Regions from separate parts of the Homo sapiens genome. Here all the other regions are linked to region 3. The links come from fine-mapping of genetic effects on gene expression. A gene starts in region 3. Each other region holds a variant in brackets. All regions are shown on one strand. Distances are from middle to middle. Region 1 has its middle 10 kb from the start of DNAJC11. Region 2 overlaps ACOT7 (acyl-CoA thioesterase 7). Region 3 holds the start of ACOT7 (acyl-CoA thioesterase 7).

Evidence for each region. PIP is the estimated chance that this variant, and not a neighbour inherited with it, causes the effect.
Region 1: its variant is the best candidate, but not a certain one, in a credible set for the expression of ACOT7 in spinal cord (GTEx, PIP 0.70).
Region 2: its variant is the best candidate, but not a certain one, in a credible set for the expression of ACOT7 in fibroblasts (GTEx, PIP 0.71).

What each region holds. Positions count from the first base shown.
Region 1 is chr1:6,707,175-6,717,059 of GRCh38, forward strand. No RefSeq gene overlaps it. Among named protein-coding and RNA genes, the nearest start is that of DNAJC11, 10 kb to the left of the region's middle. RefSeq lists an enhancer at 7,115-7,936. The variant T/A (reference allele first, on the strand shown) is at 5,655.
Region 2 is chr1:6,268,240-6,278,124 of GRCh38, forward strand. All of the region lies in intron 8 of ACOT7 (acyl-CoA thioesterase 7), which reads right to left. Among named protein-coding and RNA genes, the nearest start is that of GPR153, 12 kb to the left of the region's middle. RefSeq lists enhancers at 1,440-2,031, 2,032-2,622, 6,765-7,355 and a silencer at 5,384-5,550. The variant G/A (reference allele first, on the strand shown) is at 6,002.
Region 3 is chr1:6,389,407-6,399,291 of GRCh38, forward strand. ACOT7 (acyl-CoA thioesterase 7) reads right to left here and starts at 4,361. Exons shown (of 9, transcript NM_007274.4): 1 at 3,851-4,361. The coding sequence starts at 3,993. RefSeq lists silencers at 3,672-3,761, 4,032-4,481 and enhancers at 3,710-4,221, 4,222-4,734, 4,735-5,245, 5,998-6,522.

The sequences.
Region 1 (9,885 bases), 320 kb after region 3:
GTCTCTATGTATTGATCTATCAAAATCCATCAGATCTCTTAGGGGTACCCCATTCCAGTCTGCTTTCTTGGCCGTTTCAGTGATACAGTCCTTTGTCCTTTGGCTCTGCCCAAAATTTATGTTGTCTCTGTTGTCAACCTTTCTATTCTCACCCAGGCTGTCAAGAGTAGGTGGAGAAAGTCTTGGAAAATACAGAGTTCGTGCTATCTAACTTCAACTGTACTGCAGTGTTACCTGGCAATCTTTTCATTTTCATCTCATATTAATAGCCTATACATTCCCCCCACCCTAGTGTCTATTCCTCTTATCCTTAAGTCTGAAGACAGAGTCCTGAAATGGGCACTAGAGTCTCAGCAATTCACAAGAGAGAAATGGGTGCTGTGCTAGTGAAAGTAACACTCAAGGCCGGGCGCCACATGAACACTCAGCGTGGCACGGGGCAGGTGCAGAAAAGAAACAAATTAGTGAATACACAAGATAATTTGAGATGATCAGTGTGTAAGTAAAATACAACATAGTGATGTAATGGTGGAACATCTCCGGTGCAGGAAAGGTACTCCACATTGGTTGGTCTGGGAAGATCTATCCCAGGAGGTGATTTTGAACTGAATGATGGGAAGGACCCAGCTTTGCAAGACCCAGCTTTGCAAGGGGGAAGAATCTCCAGGGCAAAGCCTTTGAGGCAGGAACAGGTTTGGTGTGCAGGACCAGGGAGAGAGCAGGTGAGCGCAGAGCTGACGAAGGTGGGAGAGTGATAGGAAAGGAGGTTAGAGAAGCCACACCAGGGCGGTATCACCAGGGGCCTTAAACATGGTGCTCAGCAATTGAAATTTCATTCTGGCCACAATGGGGAACCACTGAAGGATTCTAAGCAGGGAAATGACATGGTCTGATTTTTGTCCTACCTGAATGATCTCTCCAGGGAGATTGGATTCAAAGGAGCAAGAATGGAGGCATCCCCTCACCCCTACCCCATCAGAGGCTATTGCAGTGTTCCAAGGAACAGATGACGGTGGCCTTGGACTTAGACTCAGTCAGGAGCAATGGGAATGGTCACACATGGACCACACATTGGATTGGAGGCAACAGGAATTACTGATTGATTGGGCTTGGGGAATAAAGAAAAGAGAAGAATTGGTGGTTACTTCTATATTTTGGCTTGAGTTACTAGGTAGTAAGGCTGTTTGTGGAGCTGAGGAAGACTGGGGAAGAGGCAGGCTGGGGAGGGGAGTGACCAAGGGTCCTATTTTGTAGAAGTAGAGTTTGGTCTTTGTTGGACTTCTAAGTGGAAGCACCTACTGCTTCTCCTTCCTTTACCACTCACTCTTGGTGTTTTTTTTTTTTTTTTGAGACAGAGTCTTGCTCTGTCGCCCAGGCTGGAGTGCAGTGGTGCAATCTTGGCTCACTGTAACCTCCGACTCCTGGGTTCAAGCGATTCTCCTGCCTCAGCCTCCCACCATAACTAGATAATTTTTGTATTTTTAGTAGAGATGGGGTTTTACCATGTTGGCCAGGCTATTCTCGAATTCCTGACCTCAGGTGATCCCCCCGCCTCAGCCTCCCAAAGTGCTGGGATTACAGACGTGAGCCACCATGCCTGGCCACCACTCATTCTTGAATTCTTTGCTCATCCCATCATTTCATGAATATCACCTTCTCAAAGTTTCCTATTACTTCTTGAACCCAGTGGCCTTGTTTTCTTGCCATCTGCCTGGATTAGGCATTATTTAACAATATCACCTGACTTCTCTTCATTGTAACCTCTCTGTCCTTGGCTGGTGAGCTTTCTCTCTCTCTCTCTCTCTCTCTCTCTCTCTCTCTCTCTCTTTTTTAAGGAGATGGGGTCTCATTCTGTCACCCAGGCTGGAGTGCAGTGGTGTCATAATAACTCACTGTAGCCTTAAACTTCTGGGTTGACGTGATCTTCCCGCCTCAGCCTCTCCAGTTGCTGGGATTATAAGCATAAACCACCATGCTTGGCCTCTCTTAACTTTAATATTTCTCCAGATATGCTCCCCTTTCTTCTTCCTCCTGCCTGGGATTTAGGACCCTTGTTGATCTCGGTTCACATATTTTCAGCCTTATACCCTCCGGCTTTCCTTTATAGATCTTTGGTTCTAGTCAGAAAAATATATCGCTTATTCTCTGAACACTCCTTGAACGTCTTAGTTCTTCATTCTTTGCTGCGTCTCTGAGCTTCCATGTGGAGGTCATTGATCTTCAGCCCAAAAAACACCCTATGGAATTTCTCTGAGTTGGGGGGGCCTGCTCTTGGAGAACTCTCTCAGCTTCCGCTAATCTGAAAATGTCTTTTTCTTATTTTCATTAATAAAGGATACTTTCTCTGGGTAGAAAATTTGTTTTAGCAGTTATTTTGTCTTCCAGCACTTTGGTGATATCATTTCTCTTCCTTTAGGTTCTGTTAGAGCTATTGAATTCTTTCTTCTCATTTTGGGACTCCAAAAAAACACGGTAGACCTTTCAAGCATGTCATATCTGCTTTTTATTATTTCTTCTGTATCTTGCTTCTTTTTATTTCTATGGCTTCTTTGTGGATAGTTACCTCTGACCAATCTTCCACTTCACCAATTCGCTTGTTTTCCTAATTTTTTTTTTTTTTTTTTTTACTGCTTTATTGGTATAAAATGTGTCAACCGCCGGGTGCAGTGGCTCACGCCTGTAATCCCAGCATTTTGGGGGGCCGAGGCAGGTGGATCACTTGAGGTCAGGAGTTTGAGACCAGCCTGGCCAACATGGCGAAACCCCGTCTCTACTAAAAATACAAAAATTAGCTGGGCATGGTGGGGGGTGTTTGTAATCCCAGCTACTCGGGAGGCTGAGGGATGAGAATCACTTGAACCCAGGAGGCGGAGGTTGCAGTGAGCTGACATCATGCCACCGCACTCTAGCCTTGGTGATGGAGTGAGACTCTGTCTCAAAAAAAGAAAAAGAAAAACAAAAGTGTCAACCTAAAAAACAAAGAGAGAGAAGTTCTCCGAAAGAAAAAGGTATTGTTTGGGAATAGAGCATTGCAGTGGAAATATGCATGCCATGGTAAACTATGTGCATATTCAGACAGGAAGACACATTGTTTACAGGAAAAAATAAGGAAGAGATGGGGTGCAGTGGCTCACGCCTGTAATCCCAGCACTTTGGGAGGCCGAGGTGGGCGGATCTCCTGAGGTCAAGAGTTTGAGACCAGCCTAGCTAACATGGTGAAACCTTGTCTCTACTGAAAATTCAAAAAAAATTAGCTGGGTGTGGTGGTGTGCACCTGTAGTCCCAGCTACTTGGGGAGGCTGAGGCAGGAGAATCACTTTAACCCAGGAGGTGGAGTTTGCAGTGAGCCAAGATCGTGCCACTGCACTCCAGCCTGGTGACAGAGGGAGACTCCATCTCAAAAAAAAAAAAAAAAAAAAAAAGAGAAAGATTACATAATTGTTTTGAAATAATTATCCTTGCTACAAAGATCAGTAACAAGGGTGGCACCAGTCTGAGGTTGGACAGGCAATTGCCGAGCAGATGTCCTTGCAGAAGTATTTTTTGTGTAAGGTTGGGATGGCTGTTGCACTAGGTTGTGTTTTTTGCAACATTTGTGATAGTGTTTTATGAGGCATACAAGCATGAGAACCCTCTCTTCAGGACCTTCTCTGACTCATTTATCAGGGTTGGCCTTTTATTGTTGTTTTTTATTTTTTATTGATTCTGACAACTTGATTCTGATTTAAGGTGCAATAAAATGCATATATTTAAAGTGAACAATTTTATGAGTTTTGACACATGTACACCCATGAATCCATTAATATAATTAAAATAATGGACATTTCCAGCACACTCAAAAGTTTCCTCATGCTCCCTTATAATCTATTCCTCCCTTCACCCCCATGTCCAGGCAACCACTGGTCTACTATCTATTATTATAGACTAGTTGCATTTTCTAGAATTTTATATATGGAATCATATGGCTTGCTCCAATCCTGTATCTTCTCTATACCATCATTGTAGGATAACCCTTTTTCTCTCTCCAGTATTGGCATCCCTGTTTCCTGAATGCTCTGTTTCCTATTCTTTTGTCTGTTTTATTCCATTGTTTTGATCAACCAAGTCTTCTCACAATTTTTTGAGAACTTGGATATTTTTATTCCACCTGTATATTTGATAGTTTGATAGGTAGATTGTGTGGCTGGGTATAAAAGTCTAGATTGCAAAAATGTTTCCACAGACTTTTGAAGACATTATTATACCACCTTCAATTTCCCAGTATTGTTAGCACTAAGACTGATTCTGTCCTAGGCTTTGTAACTGTAATTTTCTTTCTTTGGAAGCATTGCTTTCATTCTTGGTGTTCTGAAATTCCATGTGATGTACTTTGGATGGGCGTTTTCTTGTTGTTGTTGTTGTTGTTGTTTTTGAGGCAGAGTCTCTCTCTGTCACCCAGGCTGGAGTGCAGTGGTGCGATCTTGGCTCACTGTAACCTCTACCTCCTGATTCAAGCGATTCTCCTGCATCAGCCTCCCGAGTAGCTGGGATTACAGGCGTCTGCCACCATGCCAGCCTAATTTTTGTAGTTTTAGTAGAGACGGGGTTTCACCACATTGGCCAGGCTGGTGTTGAACTCCTTACCTCTGGTGATCTGCCTGCCTTGGCCTCCCAAATTGCTGGGATTACAGGTGTGAGCCACTGCGCCCAGCCATGTTTTGGTCTTTTTTTGCGGGGCGGACTTCCCTCAGAGCTCTAGTAGTCTTTGGCTGTCTATTCATCGCAGCTCCATGTGCATGTTTGAAGCTATTCTTCTGGTGAGTGTCATGAAGAGTCATTAGGTCAGGTCCCCAGATGTTAGATCTGTAGATTTTCTTCCCCCTTGGGTGGATCAGTTTTATTTATTTATTATTATTATTTTTTGAGATGGAGTCTCGCTCTGTCACCCAGGCTGGAGTGCAGTGGCGCAATCTCGGCTCACTGCAAGCTCTGCCTCCCGAGTTCACGCCATTCTCCTGCCTCAGCCTCCCAGTAGCTGGGACCACAGGCGCCCACCACCATGCCCGGCTAATTTTTCATATTTTTAGTAGAGGCAGGGTTTCACCGTGTTAGCAAGGATGGTCTCGAGCTCCTGACCTCATGATCCACCCGCCTTGATCTCCCAAAGTGCTGGGATTACAGGCGTGAGCCACCGCGCCCGGCCGATGGATCAGTTTTCCCAGAGAGTTTTCCTCCTTTCTCCTGCCTGGGGAAGGTAAAAGCCCTGCAGGGGAAGGATCTGGGAATAGCATCTCAGTACCCAAATGTTCACAAAATTCCCTTTTTTGGAACAATATCTGGTGTCTAGCTATGTTTTGATATTGAGGCTCCAAAGTCTTCCTTTGGAGTTAATAAACTTCCCTTAGTGGTGGAGGTGGTGTAGTTGCATGGCTGCGTGGGCTGGGAAAGGAGATCTGGGGTTCTTATCTATTCTTTTTAAAGACTATCATCAACACTGCTGCTCAGCCTCCGATTCCTGACCACTCCTGGGTCCCGCAGCACAAACCAGCTTACTTTCCAGGTGGCACGGGCCCCTCCATTTTACATCTTCCAAAATTTCATTGATGTCTTTTGTCTGATATCATCTTCTCTTCCATTCCTTTTGTCCATAAGCATTTATAAATGTTTCTTTTTTT[T/A]AAAATTTTACTGAGATTTCTGGAGGGAACAAATGTAAGCTCTGGCATGAGTTTTCATCAGGAATAATGAAAGTCCCTTTGTACAACATAATATTATGCCACTTGTCCATTTGTACAACTTATATTTCATTTCCAAATTTCCTTCATTTAGAAATTTATTGGCCGGGCGCGGTAGCTCATGCCTGTATTCCCAGCACTCTGGGAGGCCGAGGCGGGCGGATCACTAGGTCAGGAGATCGAGACCATCCTGGCTAAAATGGTGAAACCCTGTCTCTACTAAAAATACAAAAAAATTAGCCGGGCGTGGTGGCGGGCGCCTGTAGTCCCAGCTACTCGGGAGGCTGAGGCAGGAGAATGGCGTGAACCCGGGAGGAGGAGCTTGCAGTGAGCTGAGATTGTGCCACTGCACTCCAGCCTGGGCAACAGAGCGAGACTCCGTCTCAAAAAAAAAAAAAGAAATTTATTTCTGGACCGGGCGTGGTGGCTCACACCTGTAATCCCAGCACTTTGGAAGGCTAAGGTGGTGGATCACCTGAGGTCAGGAGTTTGTGACCAGCCTGGCCAACATGGCGAAACCCCATCTCTACTAAAAATACAAAAATTACCCAGGCATGTTGGCGGGCGCCTGTAATCCCAGCTACTTGGGAGGCTGAGGCAGGAGAATTCCTTGAACCTGGGAGGCAGAGGCTGCAGTGAGCTGAGATTGTGCCACTGTACTCCAGCCAGAGACAAAGTGAGAACTTGTCTCAAAAAAACAAAAACAAAAACAAACAAAAAACTAAATTTAATTTCTCATTAGTCTGTAAACACCTTGAGAAAAGTGGTTGAAATATTTCTATTTCCAGCAGCATTGTGTGCCTAGCATACAATCAGTTCTTCGCGCATGTACCTGAAGGAATGTATTTAATGTACATAGTTCCCCCTCATCCACAGTTTCACCCTCTCAGGTTTCGGTTACCCATGATCAACTGCAGTTTGAAAACATTAAATGAGCCAAGCATGGTGGCTCATGCCTGTAATTCCAGCACTTTGGAAGGTTGAGGTAAGTGGATCCCTTGAGTCCAAGAGTTCAAGAGTGGCCTGGGTAACATGGCAAAACCTCGTCTCTGCAAAAAATACGAAAATTAGCCGGGTGTGGTGGCATGCGCTTGTCATCTCAGCTGCTTGGGGGGCTTAGGTGGGAGGATGGCTTATGCCCAGGAGATGGAGGCTGCAGTGAGCTCTGATGGTACCACTGCCCTCCAGCCTGGGCAATGGAGTGAGACCTCGTCTTAAAGAAAAGAAAAGAAATATATATTAAATGTGAAATTCTAGAAATAATCCATGAGTCTTTTGTTTTGTTTTGTTTTGAGACGGAGTCTTGCTGTGTCGCCCAGGCTGGAGTGTAGTGGCACGATCTCAGCTCACTGCAAGCTCCGCCTCCCGGGTTCACACCATTCTCCTGCCTCAGCCTCCTGAGTAGCTGGGACTACAGATGCCTGCCACCATGCCTGGCTAATTTTTTGTATTTTTAGTAGAGACGGGGTTTCACCATGTTAGCCAGGATGGTCGCAATCTCCTGACCTTGTGATCCGCCCACCTCGGCCTCCCAAAGTGCTGGGATTACAGGCGTGAGCCACCGCGCCCGGCCGAAATAATCCATGAGTTTTTTTTTTTAATTTAATTTAATTTTATTATTATTATTATTATTTTTTTTTTATTGATCATTCTTGGGTGTTTCTCGCAGAAGGGGATTTGGCAGGGTCACAGGACAATAGTGGAGGGAAGGTCAGCAGATAAACAAGTGAACAAAGGTCTCTGGTTTTCCTAGGCAGAGGACCCTGCGGCCTTCCGCAGTGTTTGTGTCCCTGGGTACTTGAGATTAGGGAGTGGTGATGACTCTTAAGGAGCATGCTGCCTTCAAGCATCTGTTTAACAAAGCACATCTTGCACCACCCTTAATCCATTCAACCCTGAGTGGATACAGCACATGTTTCAGAGAGCACAGGGTTGGGGGTAAGGTCACCGATCAACAGGATCCCAAGGCAGAAGAATTTTTCTCAGTACAGAACAAAATGAAAAGTCTCCCACGTCTACCTCTTTCTACACAGACACGGCAACCATCCGATTTCTCAATCTTTTCCCCACCTTTCCCCTCTTTCTATTCTACAAAACCGCCATTGTCATCATGGCCTGTTCTCAATGAGCTGTTGGGTACACCTCCCAGACGGGGTGGTGGCCGGGCAGAGGGCTCCTCACTTCCCAGTAGGCGCGGCCGGGCAGAGGCGCCCCTCACCTCCCGACGGGGCGGCTGGCCGGACGGGGGCTGACCCCCCCCACCTCCCTCCTGGACGGGGTGGCTGGCCGGGCAGAGGGGCTCCTCACTTCCCAGTAGGGGCGGCCGGGCAGAGGCGCCCCTCACCTCCCGGACAGGGCAGCTGGCCGGGCGGGGGGCTGACCCCCCCACCTCCCTCCCTCCCAGACAGGGCGGTTGGCCGGGCGAGGGGCTGACCCCCCCACCTCCCTCCCGGACGGGGCGGCTGGCCGGGTGGGGGGCTGACCCCCTCACCTCCCTCCCGGACGGAGCGGCTGGCCGGGCAGAGGGGCTCCTCAGTTCCCAGTAGGGGCGGCCGGGCAGAGGCGCCCCTCACCTGCCGGACGGGGCGGCTGGCCGGGCGGGGGGCTGACCCCCCCCACCTCCCTCCTGGACGAGGTGGCTGCCAGGCGGAGACGCTCCTCACTTCTCAGACGGGGCGGCTGCCGGGCGGAGGGACTCCTCACTTCTCAGACGGGGCATCCGGGCAGAGATGCTCCTCACATCCCGGACGGGGCGGCAGGGCAGAGGTGCTCCCCACATCTCAGACGATGGGCGGCCGGGCAGAGACGCTCCTCACTTCCCAGATGTGATGGCGGCCGGGAAGAGGCGCTCCTCACTTCCTAGATGGGATGGCCGCCGGGCAGAGACGCTCCTCACTTTCCAGACTGGGCAGCCAGGCAGAGGGGCTCCTCACATCCCAGACAATGGGCGGCCAGGCGGAGACGCTCCTCACTTCCCAGACGGGGTGGGGGCCGGGCAGAGGCTGCAATCTCGGCACTTTGGGAGGCCAAGGCAGGCTGCTGGGAGGTGGAGGTTGTAGCGGGCCGAGATCACGCCACTGCACTCCAGCCTGGGCACCATTGAGCATTGAGTGAACGAGACTCCGTCTGCAATCCTGGCACCTCGGGAGGCCGAGGCTGGCGGATCACTCGCGGTTAGGAGCTGGAGACCAGCCCGGCCAACACAGCGAATCCCCGTCACCACCAAAAAAATACGAAAACCAGTCAGGCGTGGCGGCGCGTGCCTGCAATCACAGGCACTCCGCAAGCTGAGGCAGGAGAATCAGGCAGGGAGGTTGCAGTGAGCCGAGATGGCAGCAGTACCATCCAGCTTCGGCTCAGCATCAGAGGGAGACCGTGGAAAGAGAGGGAGAGGGAGACCGTGGGGAGAGGGAGAGGGAGAGGGAGACCGTGGGGAGAGGGAGAGGGGATAATCCATGAGTTTTAAGCTGTGCACCATTCTGGGCAGCGTGATGAGATCTCTCGCTGTAAGCTTGATCCCGTCTGCAACGTGAATCCTCCCTTTGTCCAGCGCATCCAGGCTCTACCTGCTGGTTAGTCACTTAGCCATCTTGGTTGTCAGAGCTACTGTCATGGTATCACCGTGTTTGTGTTCAAGAAACCCTTGTAGTACTTAACATTGGCCCCAACTTGCAAGAGTAGTGATGCTGGCACATTGTTATAATTGTCCTATTTATTATTACTTATTGTTAATTGCTTACTGTGCCTAATATATAAATTAAACTTTATCATAGGCATGTAGTCTGTAGGAAAAAACAATATACATAGGGATGGGTACTATCTGAGGCTTCAGGCATCCGCTGGGGATCTTGGAACATATCCCCTGTGAATAAGAGGGGACTACTGTATGCTAAAACGGGGAGGAGAGAAAGAGCTGGAAACAAAAAAATGATGGAAGTGGAGAAGCCAGGAGATGTTTTCATTCACTGATAGGCAGAGGAACAGAGTTCAGATTTGAGTACCAAGGACCCCCCAGGAGCAGAACATTGCCAAGGAAAGCCCTAAGTCCCTCTTCCTGAACTGGGGTAGATCAGCCTTCTCCTCAGCATCGCTGATCTCGGGAAGCACATGGCTCTGCCATTTGGTAAGCTTCGTGTCTTAGTCCGTTTGGGCTGCCATAACCAAAGACTATAGA
Region 2 (9,885 bases), 120 kb before region 3:
TCTCAGTAAAGCTGTTAAAAGAGAAAACCTCCACAGTTGAGAGCTCTCTGTGGTGGGGGAGTAGTCAGGGCTGTCAACGCATAAGACTGGCCCTGAGCTAATAACTACACAGGAATTCTTTCTTCTCTTTACTTTTGCGTATATTTGACCTTTTCTATAATTAAAAAGCTAGAAAAGCAAAAAACTAACTAGACCTAGATCTAGGAAAACCAGCCCCTCCTTTCTTCCCTAGGCACCAATGATCTCCAGGCCCCAAAGAGACGGGGACTTGGCTTTACAAGCGGTGGGCTGCGGGCAGAGCTGAGGGAGCCGTCTGGGCTGTGCACAGGCGCGATTTTCCCCACTCCCCGCCAAGAGGCGCTAAGAGCTAACTCAGGACCATGCTCCTTCTGGTCCAGTTCATAGGTGTGTGATGGGCCCCAGGCCCCACGCACGCGGCACGGCCCGAACGGCAGGGAGATCTCCGCCCAAGAGCGAGAAAACCTCCAGGGCTTCATACAGCCCGGTCCTCACCTCTGCCAGCCACACGCAGCAGTGGAGCGGAGCCCTCGAGTCCCCTAACGATCTGGCCTCCATGACCACCTGGGAGTGGAATAGGAGTAACTTCCTACAGCTCTCGGCATCTTTACCAGAGATGTGACCACAGCCCTCCAGCCGCCGAGGGCGTGGGAGGACCACCCAACTCTGGGTCTGCAGAAGGCACTGCAGACGAGAGCCCTCCCACCCCTTTGCCCCCACATGGGCTGTGCACGTGGGGCAGGGACTACAGCGATAAGGGGATATTCCCTGCGCAACCCATGCTTAGGGCGCGGCAGGCTGTGCACATCAGGGTCTTCCCAACAACCCCACCAAGCAGCACAGAAATGATTGTCCACTTTTACCAATGAGGAAGTGAAGCACAGACAGGCTGAGTAACTTGCCCAAAGTGACACAGCGGGTAAGGGGAGAGCCTCCATTTAAACCTGGGCATGGGGGCTGCCCTCCAGGTCGTCCTATGCCGAGGGACTTTTAGGGGTGGGACTCGTCCATGGGAAGTGAGGAAGGCGATGGACCTGCAGCGTGTCCACGATGAACCAGGGTCAGGGGCTTCCCTGCCTCCCCTCACCTCACCCCGGCCCTCGGCACAGCCTAGGAGCACTTGCTGAGCTTGGCCTCCCCCAGGCGGGGGCCCTGCCCTGCCCTCAGCCATATTATCCCAAACCACTACAGCTGCTCCCACCCCAGCGGCCACCAGGCCATCGAGCATTCCCAATGCCACAGGCCGAGGGCTGTGACTGCTTCTCTCGAGGTCAGTTAATACACAGCCTGAGGCGGGCACGAGCCCAGGTGCAGGTCATTCTCAGGGTCGGCTCCAGGCTGAGGGAGAATCTGGTGCCCAGCAACGGGCCCCAAGGCGGCTCTGATGTGGCCCTGCTCTTTAATATTTGCAGCAAACTCATCAGCCAGGCTCTGCCCTCAGACAAAGCAAATGCTGTCTGATGATGGATGGATGTGTGGGAGCCTGAGAGCCTGTGAGGGCCCCACTGCTCTTCCCGTCTCCCGGGATGGTAGTATCTGCTGGATGTTCCAGGCTCTGAGACAGAGTCCAGACCAGCCCAGGAGCCTCAACGTCACTGCGTGGAGTGCCCGCCCATAAGCGCTGCCCTCCCAAGGTGCGGGCGGCCTTCCTCCCTGAGTGCCCAGGGGCGCCCTTCCAGGGTGAAGGTTTATGAAGATGGCAGTCAAGGGCAGGGATGTCCCAGGTGCCTGAGGACCCAGGCTCACCACCCAGGGGGAGGTGGAACAAAGGGCCGCGGGGCGGTGTCTGTCCCATGGTAGGTTACGGGCTCACTGCTGGTGGGCAGCCAGCCTCCCCAGGTCATGGCTTTGCTAAATAGTTCTCCTACCCAAGTGACAAAGGGGCCACCCTGTCCCGCTGGGTGAGAAGCTGACAGAGCAAGACAGATGTCTCCAGCACAAGGCCCCACCCACGGCCCGGCTGCTGCCTCCTCGCAGCCATCTCCCTCCACCCAGCAAAGTAAATAAATGCATACGCTGTTGGCTGTTGCTGTTTTTAATGGAGGGTTGGGGGTGGGTGGAGGACGAAAGAACGCTCTGCGGGAAGACAGATGTCTCTCTCAAGTCCCCGAGGCTGCTGGTGGGGGAAGGACTGGAGCCTCTGGGGCACTGGCCAGTGGTGCCAGCTGCCGGGCACCCACCTGTGGCCTCAGGCAGGCTCCTCCGAGCCTCTGGGGCTCCCCAAGAATATGCCAGAGAGAAAGGATGAGGTGGCAAAGGGCAGCTCAGGGCACATGACCCCCATGTATCCCGGGCACCTGCCTGATGGAAGGGATGGGGCAGCATGGCCAGGAGCAGGACTCTGAGTCCCACGGGCCCAGCTGTGTGGCCCAGGGCCAGGTTTGTTCACCTGGAAACAGGAACTCAACAAAGTGACATGGCAAAGTGCTTCCTATGGTGCCGGTGCACGTGAGCTCCTACGTGTGTGTGCACATGTGTCTGCGGTCCCTGGTGCATGTGTGTGTGTCTGTGTGGTGGTCCTGCTGTCCTCAGAAATACCTGAGGCCAAGTGCAGCCTGGGAACTGCTCCAAGGACTGTCCTGCTGGTGTGTGGCTGCCCCAAAGGAGGGCCAGATGGCCCGGGGTCACCTTAACGCAGCGGGCCCTTTAGGATGTCACACCCACACATGGGGACGCAGGGGTGGGGAGGGTCCCAAGGTAGCAGGTTGACAGTACGCTCCCTCCCTGGTGCTCAGGGAGCACCGCCTGGCACTCAGCACCAAGCCCCTGGCTCCCCTGCAGCCTAGTGGCTGCCTGGGCCTGGGGTCTGCATCTTTTTCCTCCCTCCACTTAGTGCTTCCTGCCACTGCTGTCTTCTGGGCTCTCTTCCACTGGAGGGGAAGCCTGTGGCTTTCAGAGCCAAGTGCTGCAAACCAAATGTTTTCCACTTTGCATTTTCTGTGCTTGGAGAACACACATTTGGAACATGGTATGGAGGACGAGTGACTAAGTTCCACCCTCGGTAAAATCAATAGCTTGTCCTTTTTGTAATTAATGAATGGCGTAAAAAGGGTTTCCAGTGGTGATATAACAACTTCCTGTAAGCCTGAGGGACACAGACCTTCTTAATTAGGAAGCCACGTAGCATGCCCTCTCCCTGTTATAACAGGAGACAAGAGGGGTCTTGGGATAATCACAAAAGCAATGAAAACATCTCATTATTGAGGACACTCAGCACGGCCGGGCGAGGGGCCTTGTGCATGGAGAAGCCAGCAATGATGAGCTTAGCACCAGGACCACCAGCCTCACAAGCACCTGTGCCCCCAGGGTCTTGCTCCACCTGAGGACCTTGCCTTAGCGGAGCCTGTCCGCCATCCGCTGTGGCCTCTCCGCCATCCGCTGTGGCCTCTCCCAGCAGCTGCAGGCCTGGGTTAATTACCTCCTCCTCCACACCCACCCAGGACTGCACCAGCCTCCAGCAGAAAGCAGCCGGAAGTCTCAAATAATGAGATCATTGTGGAGAGTCATAAACACCCTCACCAGGGGCTCCCCTCACCCAGCAGCACCGGCTCAGACTCCGAAAGAACTGCCCCCAAGTGGGGCCAAGAAAGGAGGCGTAAAGGCCAACGGGAGGCTGCTGGCGGAGGCAGGGAGATCGTCACCACAAAGGGGAGAAAAGGCATTGGGACTTGGGCCTGGGTGGTGGCCTCTCAGGAGCCCCTCCTGCAGGCACGGAGTGCCGTGGTCCCGGGACGCTCGGCTCACAGCTCTTGTGCCGGAGTGTGGACATGGCGGTCCCCACCCTACAACACCAATAATGATCATAGCTGTCACCTGCTGAGTGCCCACTGTGGGCTAGGCCTGGGCCAGAAGCCGCGTGCTCATGGCACACCTCTGCTGTGCGTGTGCCCACTCTGTGCTATGCCCTGTGGAGCCCTTCCTGTCCTGCTGGAGGCCAGCACCATGCCTGGACATAGCAGGGGCACAGGAGGTGTTTGCTGGATGGATGAATGAATGAATGAATGAATGATCAAACAAATGAAGATCAAAAAGGCTTAATTCTAAATAGGGATGGTCTTTATGTTAACAATTCAAAACCAGTACTTCTGCTCAATGAACACTGGCATCATCTGTCCCCAATCAATTCCAGGGGGCTCAGACCATGGAGGGTCTGAACAGGAGCCTGCAACAGTGACAAAGATGAGATGAGAGTGTCCAGCACACCTAGGCTTGGCCATCCCCCTGGAGATGGGCCAGCTCTGTGGCCATGCTGGGGACTTGCTTCTGATCCTGCACACACAGGTGGGGAGGGCTCTGCATCCTTTCTACCACCGTGTGGGGCACAGGGCCTGTTTCTTCCTGCACCTTTGCTTGCAGGGCTCAAGATGTGTGTCTGGCCGCAAAGAGCCTTTGCCAGGACACTCCACACCCCTTGCTGAGAGCGCCGAGCCAAGTGGGCGGCCTCCAGCCCCAGGATACTCCAGGCATGAACTCGCCCTGCTGAAAAACTCCAAGTCCCATGGCCAGGACCTCACATGGGCCCAACAACCTTTCCAGGCCTCCCTGACAGATCTCTCGCTCACCTTCCGCAGCACCCTGGGTCTAGCCGGGATGCTCCCTCGGTTCACTGAATCCTCTGGAAATCCCACCCACGGGCCTCTCCTGGTACAGCCCCCCTCCTGGCAGTGCTCACTCTGTCCGTGTCACAAATCTGACAGCAGTGGGGACAGAGAGGCCCCAAGGCTCCATCCCACACTCTGTTGTATGCCCCCCAGGCCTGGCTCTGAGCAGAGCCTTCTGTAAACCTCCAGGGGGAGAACATGAGCAGCTCACTGTGCCCAGGTGGGTTTTTAACCCCCCGCAGCCGGTTAGGCCACAGTGGCATCAGAAGAGCTACCTACCAGTGCCGCTCAGAAGGGCCAGTGTGTGGCTGTCTGGACACAGTGGATCTTTCAGAGATATATGCAGAGCAGAAACATGAAAGGTGGCTGGAGAAAGAGTCTGGGCTCAGGCAGAGGGAAGGCGAGAGCCAGGCTGGAGGGGAGGGCTACATGCTCTCATCTGCGCCAACCTCCTTCTCAGCACCCATGCTCGGGTTCTAGGCACATGGGACTCACTGGCCACCGGATGTTCCTAAGCGCTAACCAATGAGGCGACAGGGGCAGCTTCAGGATGCAGGTATTTTCCCATCACAAGACTGACTCCCGCTAAATGCAGGCAAAAGGAACAGAGAGCACGACACTGGATTCTGAGCCTCATGAATATTCCAGTCCATGACTCACGCCTGTGGGCTGGCAGCAAGGTGGGGGCAGGAGGGGGGCAGGGCTTCCCTCACTAATGGCCAAACGCGGCAGGCGGTTCACCAAGCCCTTCCAGGAACACACCGTCAACCTTCTGCACTCCAGTAACAGCTGAATTTCCTAAATTAGTCAACAATTAAAAAATTATTCCAAAAGTCCAATCTTGGCCAAACAAACAAAGGAAGCCAGTGTAAGAGCCCGCACACGGGCGCAGCGGTGCCCATCCCAGGGCGAGTGCAGAGGCTGCGCGCGGCCACCACACAGTGCTTCCGCCCACTCTTTTGCTAGTGAAATTCTCTGGGAGTAGGTGCGGCCCCTCCCTGCCAGCAGGAGCCTGTGGCAACGGGGTGTCTAGGATGTCGAGGCAGCAGAGACCCTAGGGCCCTGCCCCGTGACAAAGGCCCCACGTGGGGACCTCTTTCTCTGTCCTACATCCTGGGACCGGACCTCTCTTCTTGTCCTGGTCCGGCCTGGACACGGTCAGGAATGGCCACCTCTGCTCCTGAGGCTTCTTCGAGAGGAACGGGGCCCATGCGAGGACCCCAGGCCCCTCTGCACACCGTGCCTGGGGGTCAGGCAGGTCCTGGGGGTGGGGAGCAGCAGGCACCATCATGGAAAGCTTGCCCCATGCTTCCTCCTAAGTGCAAAGGGGCGAGGGACCTTCCAATTACAGCATCACTGAGAAGGCACGGAGAGGGAACTTG[G/A]GGTAACAGCCTGGCGACGGCTCAAGACAGCCACAGCCAAGAGGCATCTCCAGCCTGCTCTGTCTGCAGCCCCCACATCAGTGCGTCACAAAGCTGTGGCCCTCAGCACTGCATGGCAGACAACTTCCAGAAGGCTGCAGAGGGCCTTTCAGCTGACTTAAGCCCTGGGGCCCATCCCGCCCCTCCAGCTGAACAGCAGGTCAAACAGTGCCCTCCTTCCGGACGCTCCAGCCCATGCCACGCTGTCCTCTCGGCTGGCGCGGGGCTTACCCGGCCCCTGCACTCATGCAGGTGAACCAGCTGAGGCCAGGAGAAGGAGGTCATAGGGCAGCAGCAGAAGCGAGGTGGGCACCATGTTCCAGAGCCTTCTGAAAGTTGTGTGGGTCTGTGCTGAGGCCACGCCTCACATAAGGCCCCAGCAGAGGCAAAAGAATCAAACTGGAGTGGAAAACTTTCCACTAAAATGTGCCCCAACCCCCACACTCCACAGTGGCCTGTGGAGGTTCAGTCACCTGCCCAGCACTGGTCCTGAGATCATCTGGGGCTGAAGCAAAGGCCCTGGGCTGAGCGCGGTGTGGGTGGGCGGCGCAGTGCAGGTGGGCAGCGCGTTGGGACTCCCAGGGTTTAGGTTCTTGCACAGAAGGGTTCTCAGGCAGGGCTCCTCCCAGGACCCCACAGTAGGGCCTGGCTGGGAGAAAGCACAGTGGCATCGATGACAGCAGTGAGCGGCCCCCTTTCCCAGTCAGTGAAGTCACAGATGGGCCTGCTGGCCGTGCGACCCCTGGCGAGTGACTCCCTGCCTGGTGCCCGCCTCCTGTCTGGGGATGGGAAGCATCTGTGAGCAGACACACCAGCTCGCAGAGGGGTTGGCGTTCCCTGAAGCCTCCGGCTTCAATGACCTGTACCCAGGCACCACCCAAGAGGAAGCCTCCCCTGCCCCTCCAGTCCCTTGCCCACCCAGGAGACAGGCAGCAGCCTCTGCATCCAGCTGCCCTGGCTTCCTAACCAGAAAACAAACCTGCTGAGAATGGCCCCCGGCCTGGTAGGGCTCCCTCAACCTGAAGGAGCCCAAGGGTCTCAGGGCCTCTTCTAGGTCGGGGCACGTCAGAGCGGACAAAGCTCAACAGGGTGCGTTTTCCCTGAGTTCTTGGAACTCCCCTGGCTATGCATGAGGCAGCTCTGAAAGGCAAGGTAAAGATGGCCACAGCTAGGCCAGGCGCGGTAGCTCACGCCTGTAATCCTAGCACTTTGGGAGGCCGAGGCAGGTGGATCACGAGACCAGCCTGGCCAACATGGTGAAACCCCATTTCTACTAAAAATACAAAAATTAATAAGGAATGGTGGCATGCGCCTGTAATCCCAGCTACTCGGGAGGCTGAGGCAGGAGAATCGTTTGAACCCGGGAGGCAGCGGTTGCAGTGAGCCGAGATCCAGCCATTGCACTCCAGGTTGGGCGACAGAGTGAGGCTCCGTCTCAAAAAAAAAAAAAAAAAAAAAAAAAGATGGCCGCACCTGCCTTCATTACTGCCTCCCACTTCCATCCAGAAAACATTTCGGTGGCTAAAGACTGAAGCTCGGAGTCCTGGGCTGGCCACCTCGGGAGATGTGTGTTCATGAGCACCAGAGAGACCCTCTGGGATGGGCTCCCTCCAGTTTGGAAGCCTGCTTTGCAAAGACCCTGCCCTGCATAATGTGGTTGCACAGTTGGAGCCTCGGCTAATCTGGGGACACATCCCCTCCCCAGTGTGCCCAGGAAGCAGTGGGGTCACGGCGCTCACTCAGCCCTGACAGCCATGGAACAGGCTACAGGCTTCTCCCTGGTCAGGGGCCTCAGCGAGCCCCTCACCCCGCCCTGTCTACACCTCCTCCTCAGGCCCAGGCTGGGACCCACAAGTTCTCAGCCCCAACTCCCTGGGCCTGTAGAGGCTACAATGCCCACGCCTGCAAGAATCAGAGGCAAGTACAGCCCCCACCTGAGGTGCCAGGGACGTCCTCCGCTTCAGCAGACACACGGCTCTGACCCTCCTGCAGGCTGAAAAGCCTTCCCACATCTGTCTGCTGCCGCCTGCGTCCTGCTGTCCCTCCCCACAAGCCACTTCTCCAGCCCCCTTCGGCCCAAGGTCAGAGGGCACTGCCACGGGGAGGCCTGCCTCTACGCGCTGAGTTGGCCTCTTCTAATACGAGACCGAGACCGGGAAGTGCTGGCAGCTGCCCGGAGCGGGTGCGGCAGCCCCCAGCATAAAATATTCATGGAGACGCAACTCCAAGCAGAGAGGCTGCATCCGTGTCAGCCAGGCCCTGGGGAAGGGAGCTAAAAATAGACAGGAGGCTGAAGAAAGCTGACGTGGGGATGAGGGAGGCGACTGGGAGTAGGAGGAGGGGCCGCCAGGGCACATCTGGAGGGACGGAACGCACATGCAGGTTCACCGCACGGAGCACACACGTGCTCCCAGCCCAGAACTCGTGCTCATGTGGGCAGTCCCCAAGTGAGAGCTGAAAATCCCTCTCCGGGCAGCCTGCCCCGCCAGTGGCTATTTCTATCAACATCAACATTGACATCCATGGGCCCCAGGACACCTCAGTGAAGAATCAAAGACCATCTTTAATGAGTGAGAAATAACAGCGTAGATCAACATGACGCGGCCACACCCAGGGGATGGGCTGCCATTCCCTCCATTCAAGCTGGCGCCCTTCCCTGCCCCTCTGCAGCCCCTTCCCCCAGGGCTGGCCCTCCTCCTGCACTCTGACCACCCCCCCCCAGGGTATGGAGTTCTGGAAGGGGCGGCCCCAGGACTGCTCCCCAGCTGGCTCTGGGAAGGTCACAGGCGCGGCCCCAAAAGCCTCCGTGACCGCAGGCTGCTATCCACACAAGGGTGGACCCCCTCAGGTTGGACTCTATAGGGAGTGGGGAACGTGAGGCACAGAGGTCCCCTCCCTGAGAGCCCATGGATCGCTGGCCCCTCGTGGTCACTGCACTGGTCTCCCTGAACCAGCTGAGTGCTGGGGTAGGTGCAGTGGTCCTGACCCCACAACCAGTGTGCACAGCCCAGCTGGGGGCAGCCGGGAGAGGGAACCGTCATTGGTGGGCAAACACCAACCACGCCTGCAGCCGCTGCCAACCTGGGAGGATGCCCCCCACTATCAGCTTTGAAGGGCTGCTATTGGGAGATGCCCCAGGGCACCCCATCAACCTGCACTGAAGCCTGTTCAAAGCACAGGTCACCCAGATCCTCCTCTACTTTACGCCCATATGCGTGAGCCCCATAGACTCCCACCAGCCCTCTCTCCCCAGCCCTGCCCCGTCCTAGCCGGGTGGCCTCGGGTGTGTCACTGTCCCCAAGCTCCCCCGTTACAGACAGTGGCTCTGCGCCTTTGGCCCTCGCCGTTCCCTTCACCTGAATGGTCCCCACAAGACAGCTCCTGCCCTTCCTCCCTGACTCCAGGCCTCCGCTGAGGCTTTCCTTGGGAAGGAACATATTTAAAATTGTACCTGTCCCCCGGCACACTCCGATCCCCTCATTCCCTGCTGTCTTCTTCGTGACCCTGGACACCATTCAACTTCCTCTATCTTCACTGTTTGTTTACTCCTCCCTCTGAGAGGGTGTGAGGCCCCAGGGAGAGCAGGTGAACAGCAGCAGATGATGAAGGCCCCCCATCTTCACCCACCCCACATGGTGGGCACCGTGTCCATCACCACCGTACAGATGAGGAAACCGAGGCACATAGAAAGTGCGTGCCTAAGGCCACACAGCTAGTAAGTTTAGAGCTCTGGCTGACCCGGGCAGCCAGGCGCCTGCTCCTGGATATGTGAGCCTGACAGTCCACGCAGCGTCTGCAGTGGCGGGGGGTGGTTGGGAGGGGGTCTGGGGTGGCGGAGGCGACGC
Region 3 (9,885 bases):
TCCCCAGAAAGCCTTGGAGCTTCCTTTAGGAACACCCTGCCCCCCACAGACCTACTAGTAAATTGATGTTTAAATTTCTCTACATATTGCACTCCCCAAAAGATAGCCACCAGCCACAGGTGGCTACCCACCTGAATTTAAATTGATGCAATTAAAAATTCTGTTCCCTTCGTGACCAGCCTGACCAACATGGTGAAACTCCATCTCTACTAAAAAAATACAAAAAAATTAGCTGGGCGTGGTGGCGGGCGTGTGTAATCCCAACTACTCAGGAGGCTGAGGCAGGAGAATCAGTAGAACCTCGAAGGCAGAGGTTGCAGTGAGCCGAGATGGCATCTAGCCTGGGGGACAGGGCAAGACTCCCTCTCAAAAAAAAAAAAAAAAGAAAGAAAAAAAAGCCCCTATCCCTTCAACAATGTCTGAACTGAGAACATGTGACCATTGTGTCTAAGATGGTGGGAATTTGGACGTTCTCACCCCTGCTAGACTGTGACCCCTTAAGGCAGGGGCCACATTTTCCACACGTTTCCCTCCTGGTGCTATGCTTCTTGGCAGTGTCCAGTAAAGCATTGTTAAATTCATGGGCTTGGCTGTGCTAGGCCAGGAGGCTCCTCTTTCAACTTGGGGTGTCAGCTCAGATGTCCTTAAAGGGCTCCCCATCCTAGTACAGTCACTCTCCAGTGTCCTGCGGTTTCTCTGAGTCAAGCCGATGGAACCACAGCCTTCTCTTCACAGGCCTACCCCTACCACCACTCCCGCCTACTCCTTTGGCAGTCACGCTCTGCACCTGAGGCTCACCTGCTCACTCATGAGCAGGGGCAGCCAAGCATCCTCCTCACCAGTCGTCTGGCCAAGGCAGCCACTTAGAAACAATATGCAATTGGCCAGGCACGGTGGCTCATGCCTGTAATTCTCAGCACTTTGGGAGGCCGAGGCGGGCAGATCATCTAAGGTCAGGAGTTCGAGACTAGCCTGGCCAACATGGTGAAACCCCATCTCTACTAAAAATACAAAAATTAGCTGGGCACGGTGGTGCACGCCTGTAGTCCCAGCTACTCGGGAGGCTGAGACAGGAGAATCACTTGAACAAAGGAGGCAGAGGTTGCAGTTAGCCGAGAGTGTGTCACCGCACTCCAGCCTGGGTGACAGAGTGAGACTCCATCTCCAAAAAATAAAGAAACAATATGCAATTGTGAACCTGAGATAGCAGACTTGGTTTACAGTGGGTAAGAAAAAGCACACACACGGGCCAGGCGCAGTGGCTCACGCCTGTAATCCCAGCACTTTGGGAGGCCGAGGCGGGCAGATCACCTGAGGTCAGGAGTTCAAGACCAGCCTGGCCAACATGGTGAAACCCCGTCTCTACTAAAAATACAAAAATTAGCCAGACATGATGGCGGGTACCTATAATCCCAGCAACTCAGGAGGCTGAGGTGGAAGAATCGCTTGAACCCAGGAGGCAGAGGTTGCAGTGAGCTGAGATCGTGCCATTGCATTCCAGTCTGGGTGACAGAGCGAGACTGTCTCAAAAACAAACAAACAAACAAACAAAAAGCACACACTTACTGTATGGAAGTGTCTAAAGCTATACAAAAATCTAGTAACTAGGCTAGGAGCAGTGGCTCACGCCTGTAATCCCAGCACTTTGAGAGGCTGAGGCGGGAGGATCACCTGAGGTCAGGAGTTCAAGACCAGCCTGGCCAACATGATGAAACCCCATCTCTACTAAAAATACAAAAATTAGCTGGGCGTGGTGGCGCACGCCTGTAGTCCCAGCTACTCAGGAGGCTGAGGCACAAGAACTTTTTCCAGCTGGGTGCGGTGGTTCACACCTGTAATCCCAGCACTTTGGGAGGCCGAGGAGGGCAGATCACAGATCACCTGAGGTCAGGAGTTCGAGACCAGCCTGGCCAACATGGAGAAACCCCATCTCTACTAAAAACACAAAAATTAGCCAGGCGTGGTGGCGCACTCTTGTAGTCCCAGCTACTCGGGAGGCTGAGGCCCAAGAATCACTTGAGCCCAGGAGGCAGGGGTTGCAGTGAGCTGAGATCGGGCCACTGCACTCCAGCCCGGGTGACAGAGTGAGACTCTGTCTCAAAAAACAAAAAATCTAGTAACTGTTAGAAGCTGGGTGAAAAAAGACAACATGTATAAATTGGCTATTCACCACCCTGAAGAAGTAAATAAAAGGCCAGCCTTCCACGGGAAGATTTAAATCAAGGTTTCCTTTATTCAGGAGAGGGGTGGGAAGAATACTGGATCTGGAGTCAGAAGACTTGGGCAGGGGCTGTCCCTGGATCTCCTGGAGCAGGATGACCTTACACAGTTACTCAACTCCCAAAACTGCCATTTCCTCCTCCACACAGGTAAGGGTGGCACTACCGACCATCAACCTCCCAGGGAATTGGGCAAACCAAGTGGGATGAGACAGGTATAAGCTCTTTGCAAACCATGGAGCCCAAGTTTCCCAGCCAATACTCAGCAGAGCTGATTCAGGAACCTGATGCAGGCTGTCTGTCTCCAGTTATTTCCTTTTTTTTTTTTGCCCCGCTTTCCCCACCTCCAGAGTCGATGGGACCAGAACAGCCACAGAGCCAAAGTCAAAGGGGCAGGGCTCCCCCAAAGACGTTCCCCCTCTGGAAAAGTCAAAACCGACCTTGAGGTAAGGAGAGGCCCTCGACCAGGCCAGAAGATGAGACTGAGAGTCAAGAATCGCCATAGACCCAGGACTTGCTATATGCCCAGCCTTCCTGGAGATGTCAACATCTACAGGAAAGTAACTTGCTTCTATTGGACTTGGCTTGAGCCCAAGGTCAGTCTGTGATGCCCAACCCCCAAATGTGAGGAACCCACTACCAAAACAGAAAGCAGCTCTCACTCCTGGTAGTTCATCAAGCAGGATAGGACCGGTCGCAGGCCACAGAGCCTGTGTGCAGTGGCTGAAAACCTAGACTCCTTGTCCTCACTTAGCTCATGCACAAATGCCAGCCTGCTGCTTCCGATTCTGCCGAAGAGAACTGCAGAGTAACCTTCAGGCTGCCCTCCCCACCTCCTATGGGAAATGAGCTTGTTCATGATCTCCAGCCTCCAGCTTCCTCTGGGGGCCTGCATCTATCTACTCAGTACCTGGTGGAAGAAGAGGGGGTGCTCTAGAAGGACAACCCTTTGCCTCTATTGTGTAAGATGCTTTCAGGCCCAACAGACCACTGATTCCCTTTTCTTCATAGTAAACTGTTAGAGGTAGACAGTATTATCTGTTCTTCCTTTCAACACCTGCCCTCCCCCAAACCGAAGCAGTGCACTGAAGACGGTAGCTCTGCAACCTCCTCCCACAGGGGCACCCACCGAGGGGCTCGCGCGGCTCTGGGCACCTCCCCTCCACCTCTGGGGGCTTTGGTTAGCGCAGCACAACCGCCGAGGTAATGATCCCGAATCCTCGAGGAGGCTAAGCAGGACCACGGGGCTGAGGCTCCGGGATGCTCGGGCGAGGCCCGAGGCGGGGCGGCCCACGGGCGCCGGTCGCCGGGCTCTGGAGCTGTGCATTGACCTCCGCCCGCCCCGTCCCTGCCTGGCTTTCTCGCCCAAACGGCCCGTGGCGCGGCCGCCGCCCTGGAGATGCGGCCAGGAGGAGCCGGCTGGAGGCGGGCGGGGGCCGCCCGGCTTGTGCGGCATCGCGAGTCGCATCCCGGCCGGGCGGGCGTCCGGGGCGGCGGCGCGGAAGGCCGTGCGGGGAATCGGCGGGCGGGGGCGGCCTCGGCGGGTGGGGACCACAGAGCCAAGCGGGGCAGGCCTGGGGCGGTGACCGGCGCGCCTGGCCGCTGCAGGCTGCGCGCGGGCCCTCTCTTACCGGCAGATCTGGATGGCGGACGGCGTCTCGACGTCTGGGCCCGACATGCTGGGGGCTGCGGCGGCGGATGCGGCGGGCGGCTGCAGAAGGGCGCAGGTGTCTGGCAGGCCCGGCGCGGAATGAATGAGCCCGGGCCGCGCCATAAAGGGGGAGGGCAGAGGTGGAGCGATGGGGCTGGTGAGGCGGGGCCTGCGCGCCGGGGGCAATCGAACGCGGCCTCCCCGCGCCGACCCCGCCCCCGCGCCGGCCCCACCCCGAGCCCCGCCTCCCAGGCCGCCAAGGCTGCAGAGAGCTCGCGCGGGCGTACGATTCTGGCGGCGTGGGGGCCCAGGCAGCCGCCGCTTCCAGAAGGTTCGGTGGCGGTTGGGCCGCGCCGGTGCGGGGAAGGCCCGCTAGCCGCGGCAGCCGCGCCCGACCCGGTGGCAGCCCCGAGGGAAGCGTCTGGGGCGGCCTAAGTGGCGGAGCAGGGCGGACTTGGGCCCTCACTCTCCGCGCGGCGGTAAATATTTGTGCTGGGCGTTCCCGGCCGCCCGCGCCGCCGATTCGCTGCCGCGCCCAGTGCCTGGGCGGCCGGATGAGGTCAGAGCGGAAGGCGCGGCCCGGGCTCCTGGCAGTGGGGCCTGATTCCCACCCCCGCCCCCAACCCACCCCGGCACCAGTCGCCCGCATCGCGGCTCTCGCTAAGATCGGCCCTAAGAGAGAATGGAAGGCTGTTTCCTAGAAAGGAGCATTGGTGGCGGCTGCTGGGAAGACACGGGGAATGGAACGGGCCTTTGCTTCCGCAGCACAAAGCGTCACGAGGTGGGGAGGAGGAAAGGCCGGCGACTATCTACACCGCCGCCTGCAGCTTTTACTGGGAGCGCTGAGCGCCAGCCTGGAGGTGCACGTGTTGCAGTGAGGAGCCCTGAAACATGCGTGTTTTACTGCACAAGATGTGCCCTTGAATGGAGTCTAGGCCAGTCGGGGTCACCAAAAAAAATCCACCAAAAAACACCCAAGAAGGGAGAAGCGGTCACCCCCCACGTGCTGGAATGACAGCTTTTTACTTGCTAGGCAGTTGGACCTTTTCCGAATTTTCTACAATGCACATAGATTTGTACTTACATCTTTAAATTAAAACCCACGCAACTCCGGCTCCCTAGTGCAATTTGAACAACCCATTTACACTCAGCTAGGTAGCTCTGAAGGAACTGTGCCTCACCCCGGTCACCCTTGAGTTACCAGACCGTGGAGGCAGCCCACAGCATGATCTGTAGCTCCCAGAAGCAGGGGCAGTCAAAGTCAGAACTCTGTGATTTCAAGACTTTTATACTAAGAATTTTGTTTTTCTGTTTTCTTTTTTTTTTTTTTTTTTTGAGACGGAGTCTTGCTCTGTTGCCCAGGCTGGAGTGCAGTGGTGCAATCTCAGCTCACTGCAAGCTCCGCCTCCCAGGTTCACGCCATTCTCCTGCCTCAGCCTCCCAAGTAGCTGGGACTACAGGCGCCTGCCACCACGCCCGGCTAATTTTTTGTATTTTTAGTAGAGACGGGGTTTCACTGTGTTAGCCAGGATGGTCTTGATCTCCTGACCTTGTGATCTGCCCGCCTCTGCCTCCCAAAGTGGTGGGATTACAGGCGTGAGCCACCACGCCTGGCCTGTTTTCTTTTTTTGATATAGAGTCTCGTTCTGTCGCCCAGGCTGGAATGCAGTGGTGTGATAGCTCACTGTAACCTCTGCCATCCAGTTTCAAGCAATTCTCCTGCCTCAACCACACTGAGTAGCTGGGACCATAGGCATGCACCACCACGTTTGGCTTATTTTTGTATTTTTAGTACAGATGTGTCCAGAATTGGTGGGTTCTTGGTCTCACCGACTTCAAGAATGAAGCCGCGGACCCTCGTGGTGAGTGTTACAGCTCTTAAGGTGGCGCATCTGGAGTTTCTTCCTTCTGGTGGGTTCGTGGTCTCCCTGGCTCAGGAGTGAAGCTGCAGACCTTCACAGTGAATGTTAACGGCTCATAAAGGCAGTGTGGACCCAAAGAGCGAAAGAACAACACTCCTACAGCGTGGAAGGGGACCAGAGTGGGTTGCCACTGCTGGCTCGGGCAGCCTGCTTTTATTCTCTCATCTAGCCCTACCCACATCCTGCTGATTGGTAGAGCAGAGTGGTCTGTTTTGACAGGGTGCTGATTGGTGTGTTTACAATCCCTGAGCTAGACACAAAGGTTCTCCATGTCCCCACCAGATTAGCTAGATAGAGTGTCGACACAAAGGTTCTCCAAGTCCCCACCAGCGTAGTTAGATACAGAGTGTTGATTGGTGCATTCACAAACCCTGAGCTAGACACAGGGTGCTGATTGGTGTGTTTACAAACCTTGAGCTAGATACAGAGTGCCGATTGGTGTATTTACAATCCCTTAGCTAGACATAAAGGTTCTCCATGTCCCCACCAGACTCAGGAGCCCAGCTGGCTTCACCCAGTGGGTCCCGCACTGGGGCTGCAGGTGGAGCTGCCTGCTAGTCCCGCACTGTGTGCCCACACTCCTCAGCCCTTGGGTGGTCGATGGCACTGGGTGCCGTGGAGCAGGGGGCGGTGCTCATTGGGGAGGCTCGGGCCGCACAGGAGCCCATGGAGTGGGGGGAGGCTCAGGCATGGCGGGCTGCGGGTCCCGAGCCCTGCCCCGGGGGAAGGCAGCTAAGGCCCTGCGAGAAATTGAGCACAGCAGCTGCTGACCCAGGTGCTAAGCCCCTCACTGCCCGGGGCCGGCGGGGACGGCCGCGGCTCCGAGTGCGAGGCCCGCCGAGCCCACGCCCACCTGGAACTCGCCCTGGCCCGCAAGCACCGCTCGCAGCTCCGGTTCCGCCCACGACTCTCCCTCCACACCACACCGCAAGCTGAGGGAGCCGGGTCCGGCCTTGGCCAGCCCAGAAAGGGGCTCCCACAGTGCAGCGGCAGGCTGAAGGGCTCCTCAAGTGCCGCCAAAGTGGGAGCCCAGGCAGAGGAGGCGCTGAGAGCGAGCGAGAGCTGTGAGGACTGCCAGCATGCTGTCACCTCTCACAGATAGGGTTTCACCATGTTGGCCAAGCTGGTCTTGAACTCCTGACCTCAGGTGATCCACCCACCCCAGCCTCCCAAAGTGCTGGGATTACAGGCCTGAGCCACCTCGTCCGGACGCAGACTTTTGTTTTTTAGTGAGAATTAAGTTGATGCAAGCATCAAGGGCCCCCAAGCCTGTTCAAACACCACCTCTTCCCAATTGAATCCTGAAATGGTTGGAAGCAGTAACTAGATTTAGAGCCTCAGGCAAGGTAGTTTCCTTTTTTTTTTTTTTTTTTTTTTTAAATCTTTTGAGACAGAGTCTTGGCTCTGTCACCCAGGCTGGAGTACAGTGGCACAATCCCTGCTCACTGCAGCTTCTGCCTCCAGAGCTCAAGCAGCCCTCCCACCTCAGCCTCCTGAGTAGCTGGAGCCACAGGCATGTGCCACCATGCTCAGCTAATTTTTGTACTTTTCTGTATAGAAGGAGCCTCACCACATTGCCCAAGCTGGTCTTGAACTCCTGGGCTCAAGTGATCCACCTGCCTTAGCCTCTCAAAGTGCTATGATTACAGGTGTGCATCACTGTTCCCAGCCTGGCAGTTTCTTTACCTATGATATGGGGGTGATAAATACTTTCCTGACCGTTGTGAGGACTACTTGGCAGGCTGAGGTAGGGCCTTTCTTCCTCTTCCCTCCTCAAACCTTCTGTTTCTCTATACTGCTCTTCCCCCAGCTATGAGTGCAGCAAGAATTTACTAAGACCCCATGCTCCCTGTATAGGTGTGCTTGCTCCTCTGAGCATTACAGACACTTCATTGTTCAAAATCTTCTAAATCTGCCTGGCATGGGGGCTTGCACCCATAATCCCAGGAGGCTGAGGCAAGAGGATCCCCTGAACCTAGGAGTTTGAGGCTGCAGTGCCCTCTGATGGCTCCTGTAAACAGCCACTGCACTCCAGCCTGGGCAACATAGACTCTGTCTCTTAAAAAAAAAAAAAGTTCAAATGCTGCTTGGGACACAAATCAGGGACACAAAAAGCCAGATTCCAGCCACACACTGAACCAGAGGGAATCTTAGACAAGGATGGGCCAAGTGGTTTAGAATGAAATAGCCTGGGCCCTCCAGAGTGAGGCCAAAAAGTGATCTGGAACAGTTCCTATACTTTTGGGAAAGGGTGTGGCTACCCTTCCACCTGAGACAGCATCTGTCCCTCCTGCTCACATCACTACCCCGAAGGTGGTAGAGGGACCCAGAAAAGATAACAGCTCAGCCCAGAGATTATCATGTACCCATTCTGCACTGTAGAAAGAAAATAGTGCTCCAGATTACTACTTATGATGTTGCCCTGTTTTTAAGGATGGCAATGGGGGCGCCCAATTCCTCAGCAAAAACCTTGTGAATGATTTTGGCCATAGTGCTAATGGATTTACACTGATTTTGCACCTTCCACAGTCTCACCTTCTCGTGTTAGGCTATTTTCTACTTGCTCCTCAAGCTATGGGCCATTTCTATCCCTGCTTTCAGCAAAACATCTCAAAAGAGCTGCTTACACACACACCCTCTCCCCTCACCTCCCATCCTCCTTTGAACCTGTTCCAGTTTGGTTTTTGATTCTACCAGTCAATCTATCAAGGTCACTAATTCCTTCCAAGTTGCTAAATCCGATAATCTGTTGTCAGAAGTCATTTTCCTTGACCTCTCAACGGCATTGAGCAGATGTGACCTCCCTATCCTGGAAGCGCTCCTCCCTCACGTCCGTCTTCCTCCCTCGCTGGCCACTGCTCAGCCTGCTCTGCTGGCACTGCCTCCCTGCCTCCTGTCAGAACTTTAGACAAGCCCCAAGCAGTGCTTGAACTCTTGAGGTCTCATTCTGTCTCATCACTTTTTTTTTTTTTTCCTTCAGACAGGGTTTCATTCTGTCACCCAGGCTGGAGCACAGTGGTGCAATCACAACTCACTGCAGCCTCGACCTCCTGGGCTCACATGATCCTCCCACATCAGCCTCCTGAGTAGCTGAGACCACAGGCACACACCACCATGCCCGGCTATTTTTTGTATTTCTTTATAGAGTCTGGTCAGGCTGGTCTCGAACTCCTGGGCTCAAGCGATCCACCCATCCTGGCCTCCCAAACCAAAGTGCTGGGATTACAGGCATGAGCCACCATGCCTGGCTGTCTCATCACTCTAAATTTATTGTTATTTTTATTTTTTTGAGACAAAGTCTCGCTCTGCTGCCCAGGCTGGAGTGCAGTGGCGCGATCTCGGCTCACTGCAACCTCTGCCACCCGGGTTCAAGAGATTGTCGTGCTCCAGCCTCCAGAGTAGCTGGAATTACAGGCCCCCACCACCACACTCAGCTAATTTTTTTATTTTTAGTAGAGACAGGGTTTCACCATGTTGGCCAGGCTGGTCTTGAACTCGCGATCTCAGGTGATCTGTCCGCCTTGGCCTCCCAAAGTCCTGGGATTACAGGCATGAGCCACTGCACCCAGCCTGTCTCATCACTTTAAGTCCCATCTGTATAATACATATCTCTGGCCAGCTCAGAGCTCTCCCCTAAATTCCAGATCCATGTATCCCTTGTCTGCACCAAATCTCACTTTGGTTGCATGGCAGGTACCCGACACTCACCTTGTCCTGATGCCCCTCAGAAATGGCCATCCCAGGAAATTGCAGTCCCGTCCCTCCAGTTGGTCAAGCCAAGACCCAAGGAGTCACCCGTGACTCTCTCTCTCCCTCACACCCCTCATCCAAACCATCAGCACATCCTGCAAGCTCTGCCTTCACAATGAATCTGGGATCTGAACAGTCCTCACTGTGGCATTCAGGGTTCTGCCCCACAGCCACATCCACGCTTCTGACCTCATGAGCTCTCTCCCCTGGCTCACTTAGCTCCAGCCACCCTGAGCTCCCGGACAGTCTTCGAATGTGCCGGACATATCTCAGAGGCTTCACGCTTGCTCCTTCCTCTGCCTGGGCCACCCTTTACTCAGGCAAACATCACCTTCTAAATAAG